2 separate regions of the Homo sapiens genome follow, and region 2 is linked to region 1. Evidence: fine-mapped expression QTL. A gene starts in region 1. The other region holds a variant in brackets. All regions are shown on one strand. Distances are between the middles of the regions. Region 1 holds the start of PSME3IP1 (proteasome activator subunit 3 interacting protein 1). Region 2 overlaps PSME3IP1 (proteasome activator subunit 3 interacting protein 1).

What was found. PIP is the estimated chance that this variant, and not a neighbour inherited with it, causes the effect.
Region 2: its variant is fine-mapped to the expression of PSME3IP1 in whole blood (TOPMed, PIP above 0.99).

The regions. Positions count from the first base shown.
Region 1 is chr16:57,183,329-57,188,328 of GRCh38, reverse strand. It overlaps PSME3IP1 (proteasome activator subunit 3 interacting protein 1), which reads left to right and starts at 2,290. Exons shown (of 7, transcript NM_024946.4): 1 at 2,290-2,508. It overlaps RSPRY1 (ring finger and SPRY domain containing 1), which reads right to left and starts at 2,000. Exons shown (of 15, transcript NM_133368.3): 1 at 1,878-2,000. RefSeq lists enhancers at 660-1,304, 2,616-2,665 and a silencer at 1,706-1,915.
Region 2 is chr16:57,155,368-57,160,367 of GRCh38, reverse strand. The region is part of intron 6 of PSME3IP1 (proteasome activator subunit 3 interacting protein 1); the gene reads left to right. Among named protein-coding and RNA genes, the nearest start is that of PSME3IP1, 28 kb to the left of the region's middle. The variant A/G (reference allele first, on the strand shown) is at 2,131.

The DNA.
Region 1 (5,000 bases):
TATTTGGAAAACCATCTCTAACAAGTACGACGAACCAAACACTAGTAAAATGTCATACAGGGACACAAGTCTCTTACAATCTCATAGAGGGATCTACAAAGCAAGATACCATCCCAGGAAATGCAAAGTCCACATAAGGGGAAAAATAAAGAGAACCACTGTGCAAGAGAAATTTAAAAGCAACTTCCAACATGCCTCATAATCTATAGTCTAGGGCTACCACAACAACGCATAGTATTCGTGGAGGAAAAAAGGCAGTCTTTACAAATCACAACTGAGGGAGAAAGTATGATATTCACTGCCTGTAGACATCCAAAAGCCATGCATATATATATGCAAAAGGGGGAGGAGGTTTACAATGTTGAGATCAAATTACTTAGAGGAAAATTTCAGCTGTTAGGGGAAAATAATTCCTGAAGGAAAAGATATTACAGTGGTAACTCCTGCCAGCACCATAAGAAGTTCAAAGTAAATGAAAACTCTGAGAGCAAAAGCTGGAAATCCCACCATCCCCATCTAAGCAGGGTTTGAAACCATGGGTTTAGATCTTAATATGACCTAAGAAGCTGTGAACCTTGAAGCTTTCAGTACAATATGGCTCCCAGCACTCCGCAGGTGACAGACAACGACTGTATTAATCCCACCCCTTACCTCTACATACTACTTTACATTTTAGAAAGTGCCTTCACTTTTATTCCTCAACAGCAACCCGTTTGGTGGTAGAATCACACTAACTTACGTTCACGCAGCTTGTAATTTGTACTTTCACATACTGCGCTGGTTATTTTACAGTAGAGACTTAAGGAGGTTAAGTCACTCCACTAAGCAAGAACAGATGGTAGGTAAAGGGCCTGGAAAACTGCGGGATTCTACTCAGTCGATAACAGACACTTCTAACCCTTCAAAGTTCAAAGTACAACACTCCAGGGGGAGCAACCTCTCTCAGAGAACTATACAAGACAGGACCTCGGAGTCTCAGCCGACCGCCTCGGTCTCAGTCGGTTTCCCTCCCCAAAGACGGGGAAAGTGAGGCAGCAGGAGAGACAAATGCCTAATTTGGACTCACGCAAGGGGTGTTGGTGGGATAGACTCTCCCCACCCCACTCGGGCAATAAGCCCGGAAGCAGTTGGATCCTGTGTCTGGGACACCTGGTCGATCTACAGAGAGAGGGAATAATTCCCGTTTCCCTTTCACTACTCCCCACTCTGGCTTTCCTGTGGATGGAGGTGTCTTCTTCCCATCACCGCCCAGAAATCCCCTCTCCCCAAGGTCCTTACCCAATTTTCAGCTCCGGCTTCCGTAGTAGGACATTCCGCTAGTTCTAGCTCCTGCTTCCTAGCCCCATTCTCTCTCTATCCCAAGGCGTTTCTAAATCTCCCCGGGGAGGTATGCCTCATCCGTGCCACCTAGACCGTAAACTCCACAAAAAGAACCCTCCTAAAGCGTCCCTTCATCTACCCTTTCTATCCCGGGCACCCCTGAGTAGGTCAGGACCCCATCGGTACCAGGAGCCACCCCAGGAGATAGATAGCTGCCTCTCACCTGGGCCCTGTTAGCCGCAGCCTCCTCAGAAGGGCGACCCCCAAGAACCTCTTCTGGTGAGGACCCCCGAAAGAGGGAACACCCTCTTCTAGGAACCTCTTCAGATCCCTCAAGCGCGGGCCTCGGTGGAAAACCTCTCGGCTGTTTCTCAGGTTCTGACCAACGCCACCTCTCTCCCGGGCCCTTTCCAGAGCCTACCCCGGCCCCAGTCCGGTCCGCCCGCCCCAGGCTCGAGCGGCTGTTCCCCTCCCTCACAGACGTCCCCAACCCTCAGACTCCCTCCCGTTCCGCGTGCCCAGGGCTCAGAGCAGCGCGGTCGGGCTGTGGCACTGACTTTCTCTACCTCCCGGGCCCACCGGAGGGAGGGGGCGGCGGCGGCGGCGCGACTCCTTTGTGACAGGTCCGAGAGAACGGCAAAGATGGACGCGAGGCCACGGCGCTGCCATTACGCGCAGAGCCCACCCCCGCTTCGTACCGCCCCAGCCCTCCCTCAGTCCCCTAGGAAACGCCCCTTCCTCGGTGGCAAGCCCTCTCCTTGACAGCCAATCACCTTTCAAAAATCGTGTCACGTGATCAGCGGGACCGGCCCGCCCTCCAGGCGCAGACTGGCCAGTCCTCATCCTGAGGCGTGAATGGCCCAATCAAGTCTCTCCGGCTCGTTTTCAGGGTACCGGATTTCCATCGGGCTCCCGGGGAGGAAGAGCTCCGCGGATTGGGTTACGTCGCCGGAAGTGGGGCGGGACTCTATTGTGGCGGTGAGGAACAGGAAGCCCTGAAGGGTCAAAAGAAATACAAAAGCAAAGGCTATTTTCTTTTTTTTTTTCTTTCTTTCATTCATTCCTTCCTCTGTTTCTTTCTTTCTTCCTTTCATTTTTTTTTCTTTTTTAAGAGCGAGCGGCTCTGCGGTGGCGGTTTGGGGTGGGCGCCGCCGAGGTGAGGTCGTCTCGCCTCCCGCGCGCCGGTAGGTGAGTGCGGCCTCGGTCCTGGCCTGGCGGCGACACCTGGGTTCCAGCTTCCTTACGGAAGAGATGAGCTGCGGCTGCTGTTAGGGTTAGGGCCAGGCCTGTTCTCAGTCCGCGCACCCGCTCCTTGTCCGGAGTAGCCGAAGCCTGGGGCTTGCGGGCCCAGCCTGAGGGGAGCTGAGGGTGCCCGCGGGAAGGCATCTGGGTCGCGGCGAGGACCCTTTCAGGCGGGCCCAACACTGCCGGGCGTTTAATGGGGTTTCCCCAATTTTCTGCTAGGTAGGGCCACCCAGGTTTCAAGTGAGTAGCAGGCTCCGTTCCAGAGGTCTTGGAACAGGTCCAGGTTACTCACTCGGATGTGCGGCGTCTGGTTGGAAATGGTTGAATCCCAGAATGGCAGTGCAGGATGGGAAGCACATTTATTGTGTGCCATGTACCAGTTGCTGTGCCAAGCGAATTTTCTATTACGGAAAACAAGCCAGCTGGCCCGTTTTGCAGAAAACTTAAGAAACAAAGAGAGTTGAAGCGTCATGCTTGAGAGTTGGTGGTCCTTGTGACTGTCAGTCCACACAGAGGAAAGGGGGAGACCTGTTTGTTCGTAGTCGTGGTTCTTTAATGTTAGTGGAAAACAAGATCTCCTGGGGCCCTTTTAAAATGCAGTTTCTCAGACTCCCGCACGCTCGGGTAGCCCGACTGGTTAGTTCAGGAGTGGGACCCAAGAAGCCAGATGCGAGCCTGGTGATCGGAATTCCCGATGACCTCTTGCCTACCACCTGTGACATAAGATTTGTCGATTCATCAGTTATTTGGTGTATTCATGTGTCCACAGGGACACCATAAAATGGAAGGCACCCTTCTGAAATATTTGAAGGGAATCAGTGGGTAGACTCCTTTTTGATACAAAGTATTGAGCCGACAGCAGCTTTTACAGTCTTTTAGTTAGATGACCTGCGAACAATTTGTAAGGATCTGAAAGTAGAGGCTGCCCGATTATCTTTCTCAACTGAAGTCTTCATGTCCTTACCCTGTGGGGAAGTGCTTCATGATATAAGAAAGGAATAATTGTGTCAAAACCATTTAGTTGATTATCAGTCTTCACTTTCATCTTCCAAGAATGGTGATGCTTGGTTAGAATCAAGCTGCTGCTTTAGCTATTGAAAACCACGTATGTGGTAAATCAAGTAACAAGTGCGATGTACGTACAGGGTCAGTCATAGTGTAATTATGCCTTTATGGCAGCTAAATTAAGCATTTTCAACGTGTTCACCATTAGTCACCTTTTGAACATACTTTGTCTTCATTCTTAAATATTATGTTTCACTCTTTACTATAGAATATGTTGTTAAGATTGTTTTGTCTAAAATCAAGTATCGACAAGTTTAAAAAAAAGATTGTTTTGTGTTTGGTTTTCTGTATTTCCACTATGCTCTATGGAACTATGGGTTTGTTTTTGTTCAATTTGTTTGGTATTTATTAGACTTCTTGAATCTGTGGATTAGTGTCTTTCATTAATTCTGTAAAATTCTCAGCCATTTTATATGCATATATTGCTTCTTCCCATTGTTTCTCTTTTTTTTTTTATCGATTTAACTAAACCTTTTCACTCTTTTCTCTATGTCTTTTACTCTGTTCTTTCGTAGTACATTCTGGATAATTTATTCTCAAGTTATTTCCATTGTTATTAAACTCGGCCTCTGAAATCTTAAATCATATATTGCAATTTTTAGTTTCTGAAGTTCTGTTTGGTTTGTGACACTTTTACAGTTTTTTATTTCTTACTATTTTGAGGCTTAATTTTATTTCTTTAAACATGGAAAGTATAGTTGTTTTTATAATCTCTATGTTTAATTCCACTGTCTGAATTCCCTTTGGGGGAGTCTGTTTCTGTTGTCCATTATTCCTGCTGTTTTACTTCCCAGTTCACCTTTACTTTGAAGCTGTAGTTCTTTTGGGCACAAGATTAAGATGGAGAGGGAGGTAGTTGTCAGACTCCACTCCCTGGATGGGCTCCTGGCTTGAACTTGTTTCTGTTATCTCATAAAGGCACTGAAACTTTAGCTTTTAGGTCAGAGAAGTCCTCAGGATGAAATCCATTTTGAATATTGGGCTTAATTTCTGGTTTTCACCTTCTAGATTGTGTCCAAATTCTTTACTATCTTGTTAGCTTTTCTATTTAAGAATTAATATTTTTGGCTGGGCGTGGTAGCTTACACTTGTAATCCCAGCACTTTGGTAGGTCGAGGTGGGCAGATCACTTGAGGTCAGGAGTTTGAGACCAGCCTGGCCAACATGGTGAAACCCTGTCTCTACTAAAAATACAAAAATTAGCCAGTCATGGTGGCGGGCACCTGCAATCCCAGCTATTCGGGAGGCAGAGGTAGGAGAATCGCTTGAACCTGGGAGGTGGAGGTTGCAATGAGCTGAGATCATGCCACTGCACTCTAGTCTGTGTGACAGAGCGAGACCCTATCTCAAAAAAAAAATTATTTTTGACA
Region 2 (5,000 bases), 28 kb after region 1:
GTATACTGTATATGTGTATACACACACACACATAAAGCTTCATAGGAATATTTTTCTTTTTTTTTTTTTTTGAGACGGAGTCTCGCTCTGTCGCCCAGGCCGGACTGCGGACTGCAGTGGCGCAATCTCGGCTCACTGCAAGCTCCGCTTCCCGGGTTCACGCCATTCTCCTGCCTCAGCCTCCCGAGTAGCTGGGACTACAGGCGCCCGCCACCGCGCCCGGCTAATTTTTTGTATTTTTAGTAGAGACGGGGTTTCACCTTGTTAGCCAGGATGGTCTCGATCTCCTGACCTCATGATCCACCCGCCTCGGCCTCCCAAAGGGAATATTTTTCTTTTAATTAATTTTTTTTTAGAGATAGGATCTCACTTTGTTGCTTAGGCTGTAGTGCAGTGACTATTCACAGGTGCAGTCATGGCACACTACAACCACAAACTCCCAGGCTCAGGTAATCCCCCACGTGAGCCTCCTGAGTAGCTGGGGTTAAATGCTCTTGGCATAGGAATCTTAAATGTATTTCTACAAGTAAGCTAGTCGCTCTTTATATGGTACTTATTTCCTGGTAGGAACTATACAAATGAATCAGTGGAAAGGAAAACTTGTGTGGATTCTTTGAACTATCTCAGGCAGACAGCTGTGTTTCAGAGCCATCTTTTTGTCATTCTAAATCCCTTCTTCCTACTCCTGCATTCTTGCAACAGAAACCAGGCAGGAAGTGTCCTCCTTTGCTAGGAATTAAGGCTCCACAAGAAGAACGCTCCCTGAAGCTTGCTTCAGCCCTGTCCTTAGCAGTGGGAGGATTTCCGTCTTGGGCCCCTATGACTCTGATAGAAATTCAGGCTTCCCCCAGCGAAGATTTTGAACTTAAGCACTGAGCAGAGCCAGTGAATGCACAAGTTGGCCCCATCTACTCCCAAGTCACGCATCTGTCTGAATACTAAGAACATTCTCTATTAGTAATTTTCTGTGTTAATTTGGTATGACAATGTGGTCCTGCAAATGCAGAAGTTGGCAGGAAACTTCACCAAATGGGTGAGATCAGAGGGCACCATTTTGTTCTCTTTGGACAGTTAACTGCTTTTGGAATGAAATTTGTCAGATTTGCAATCTCTTTTCTTTCTTGAAACCTCCTAGATAATTGGGGTATTTGGTCTCTTCACTTAAACTCTTCTGATACCACAGTGGTCCAGATTCCTTGATTATATTTCTGTAGCTAACTTCCATTCTTCCGTTAGGCCAGTTCTCTACCCCCACAGGCACTCTGACTTTCATCCTTCTTTTCTATGTAAAATAGAACTTTAAATTCCATTCGCCCTTGAAATATGGTCATGTGCCACATAACGCCATTTTGGTCAATGATGGGTGCATATATGATGGTGGTCCCATAAGATCATAATATCGTATTTTTACTATGCCTTTTTCTATGCTTAGCTATGTTTAGATACACAAATACTGACCATTGTATTACAGCTGCCTACAGTATTCATACAGTAACATGCTGTACAGGTTTGTAGCCTAGGAGCAATAGGCTATATACCATGTGGCCTACATGTGTAGTAGGCTATACCATCTAGGTTGTATAAGTATTCTATGATGTTCACAACAATGGAATTGTCTAATGATGCATTTCTTAGGTCATATTCCCATCATTAAGCAGGGGTGTCTGTACTTGATAAAATGAAATACCTCATTCAACAATTTCACATAAATTAGTTTTCTAGGTAACTGATCTATATATCCTTTTAAGGTTTTTTTTCTTTGTTGGTTTGTTTTTTTATTTTGAGACAGTCTAGCTCTGTCACCCAGGCTGGAGTGGGGTGGTGCGATCCCGGCTCACAGCAACCTTCACCTCCCAGGCTCAAGCGATTCTTCTGCCTCAGCCACCCAAGTAGCTGGGATTACAGGGGTGTGCCACCACGCCTGGCTAATTTTTGTATTTTTAGTAGAGACAAGGTTTCCCTGTGTTGGCCAGGCTGGTCTCGAACCCCTGACTTCAGGTGGTCCACCCGCCCCAGTCTCCCAAAGTGTTGGGATTACAGGCGTGAGCCACCACGCCTGGCTGGTTTGTTTTTTTTAAACAACCAAATTTTTCTAACAGAATGCTGAAAATATCATTCTATCTGGTATAC[A/G]TAAGTACTACAATGTATTTTTAAGTCATGAATGGTATAGTTTGATGTTATGTTCCAAATGTTAAAAGAGCATCACATTTTTATACCCCTTCCCCCCAAATTAGCCATTTGCAATGAAACTGTAAACTGTCTGACACATTTTCCTGCATTCTGATTTCTGACCCTTGTGAATGCAAGCCTGCTCTGAGCCAGGCCCTGTGCTATATGTCCTGGGGGTGGAATGGTGATAAAAGAATGCTTGCCTTCAAGGGGCTTACCGTTAGTGGAGAATACACACAAGCAACCCCTCTCATCTTCTACAGCCTTCTTAGCTTTAATACTGGGATGCTCTTGGGGTTACAGAGATAAATGGGACTATTCCTCCCTAGTTTAAGGGCTCAGGATGTTCTTTGAATTTTTGTATTTGCTTTTTTAAAAAATTGTCTACCCAAGCACAGCTGCATTTTAAAAAACTGTCTGAATTGGTAATATATGCACATAATAAAACATTTAGGCCAGGCTAGGTGGCTCATGCCTGTAATCCCAGCCCTCTGGGAGGCTGAGGCGGGAACATCACTTGAGCCCAGGAGTTTAACCTGGGCAGCATAGTGAGCCTTATGTTCTTAAAAAAAAAAAAGAAAAAAAAGAAAAGGAAAAATTCAAAAGGGACAAAAGAATGTGGAGTAAAAAGTAAGTCTCCCCCATTTTCCAGCCACTCATTTCCTTTCCCCTGAGCAGCCTCTGCTACCAGTTTTTATTTATTGTTCTCAGACACTGACATGCATCTACATGGGCATGGCCACTTTGCCCCAGATTGTAACTTTCACACACTGTCCTGCTCCTTGCCTTTTTCATTTAGCACAATATCTTGGGGATCATTCAATAACAGTACACACAGAGATGCTTTCTTCTTCTTCTTCTTCTTCTTTTTTTTTTTTTTTTTTTGGAGATAGGTTCTCGCTCTGTCACCCAGTTTGGAGTTCTGTGGTGCGATCATGGCTCACTGCAGCCTCAGCTTCGCCAGTTCAAGTGGTCCTCCTACCTACCTCAGCCTCCTGAGTAGCTGGGACTACAAGTGTGCACCACCACACCCGGCTAATTTTTTAAATTTTTTGTAGAGACAGAGTCTCCCTGTGTTGTTCAGGCTGTTCTCAAACTCCTGGGCTCAAATGATCCTCCTGCCTTGGCCTCCCAAAGTGCTGGGATTACAGGCATGAGCCATTATGCTCAGCTACTTTATTCTTCTTCATGGTTGAATAGTAGTCCATTACTTAACTAGTCATCTATTAATGGACATTTTGGTTGTCAGTACTCTTTTGCTACTATAAACAGTGCTGCAATGAATGTTCTCTTATGAACATCATTTAAGTTCGAAGAACTTTGCCAAATTTCTCTGTACTCCCTGAACAGCAAATGAAGTTTGCTGTTCCTAACATGTTCCCTCCTAATATATTGTTTATCCCGTTATGTTTAAAATTCATCTGTTTCTTTTTCTTTGAGTTGTTCATGTTTTCCATTCACTTTTCTATTTGGTTGTTGGTTGTTTTTTTAACAGATTTGGAAGAACTCTTAGTATCTTAAGGAAATTTGCTTTTATGATAGTACAAGTATTTGCTCCTGCCTTTTTTTTGTAGCCTTGCTCTATCTCTGTAGCCACTGTCGGCTTTCATTTGACTTTTCTCCATCTCCGTGTTTTAACATTGCTTATCTTTGGCAACTTCCTTTTCCCTTCTTAGAGCTTCTTGCACAAACAAGCAAATACATTGATCTCCTGAACTTTGTGTGCGGGCCGTTTGATATCTCTTCTAACTGCTCAGTGGTATTGTTTGCTTACTCCTGGTTTCCTATACTTGGAACTGTGTATTCTTTTCACATTTACTTGAGGTGTCTGGGTAAATGAGGTGTTAGTGCATCTAAGGCAAAACCCTAGAAGGTAGTATGCTTGTCAGCCTGTGGCAACAAAGTATGAACTCCAACCCTTACTCTGCAGTGAGCTCAGGTTATCATTTTCGTATGTTCTCTTTTGATTCACGTTTAGTTTCACATTTTCTGCCCTAAGCAACCTACAACCTTGCCAAGTCATTTGACTTTCCTCATCAGTAAAATGGGGATAATGCCTATACATCAAGTTGTAGTGATTAAATAAGGCCGGAAACATTTCAGGGAAGAATGGAAGGGCTGGAGTAGAGTTCTTAACTTTTCCTTTCATCTTCAAGTCCTGCATTTTCTTTTCTTCCTCCTCCTTCTTTCTTTCTTTGTTTTGTTTGTTTGTTTGTGTGTTTGTTTTTTGAGACAGGGTCTTGCTCTGTTGCCCAGGCTGGAGTACAGTGGTGCCATCATAGCTCACTGTAACCTTGAACTCCTGGGCTCAAGCAATCCTCACATTAGCCTCACAAGTAGCTGGGACCACAGGCATGCACCACTATACCCGACTAGTTTTTTTGTTTTTTTTTGAGGCAGTGTCTTGCTCTGTTGCCCAGGCTGGAGTGCAGTAGCGCGATCTCAACTCACTGCAACCACTGCCTCCTCCTGGATTCAAGCTATTCTCCTCCCTCAGTCTCCCTAGTAACTGGGATTACAGGCACGCGTCACCACACCCAGCTAATTTTTTGTACTTTTAGTAGAGATGGGATTTCACTGTGTTGGCCAGTGAACTCCTGACCTCAAGTGATCCACCCACCTTGGGTGGTCTTGACCTCCTGACCTCAAGTGATCCACCCAACTTGGCCTCCCAAAGTGTGGGATTACAGGCATGAGCCACCTCACTTGGCACTGTCTAATTTTTCAAAACATTTTCTCGTAGAGATAGGGCCTCACTATGTTTCCCAGGCTGGTCTTAAACTCCTGACCTCAAGTGGTCCTCCTATCTCAGCCTCCCAAAGTGCCAGGAT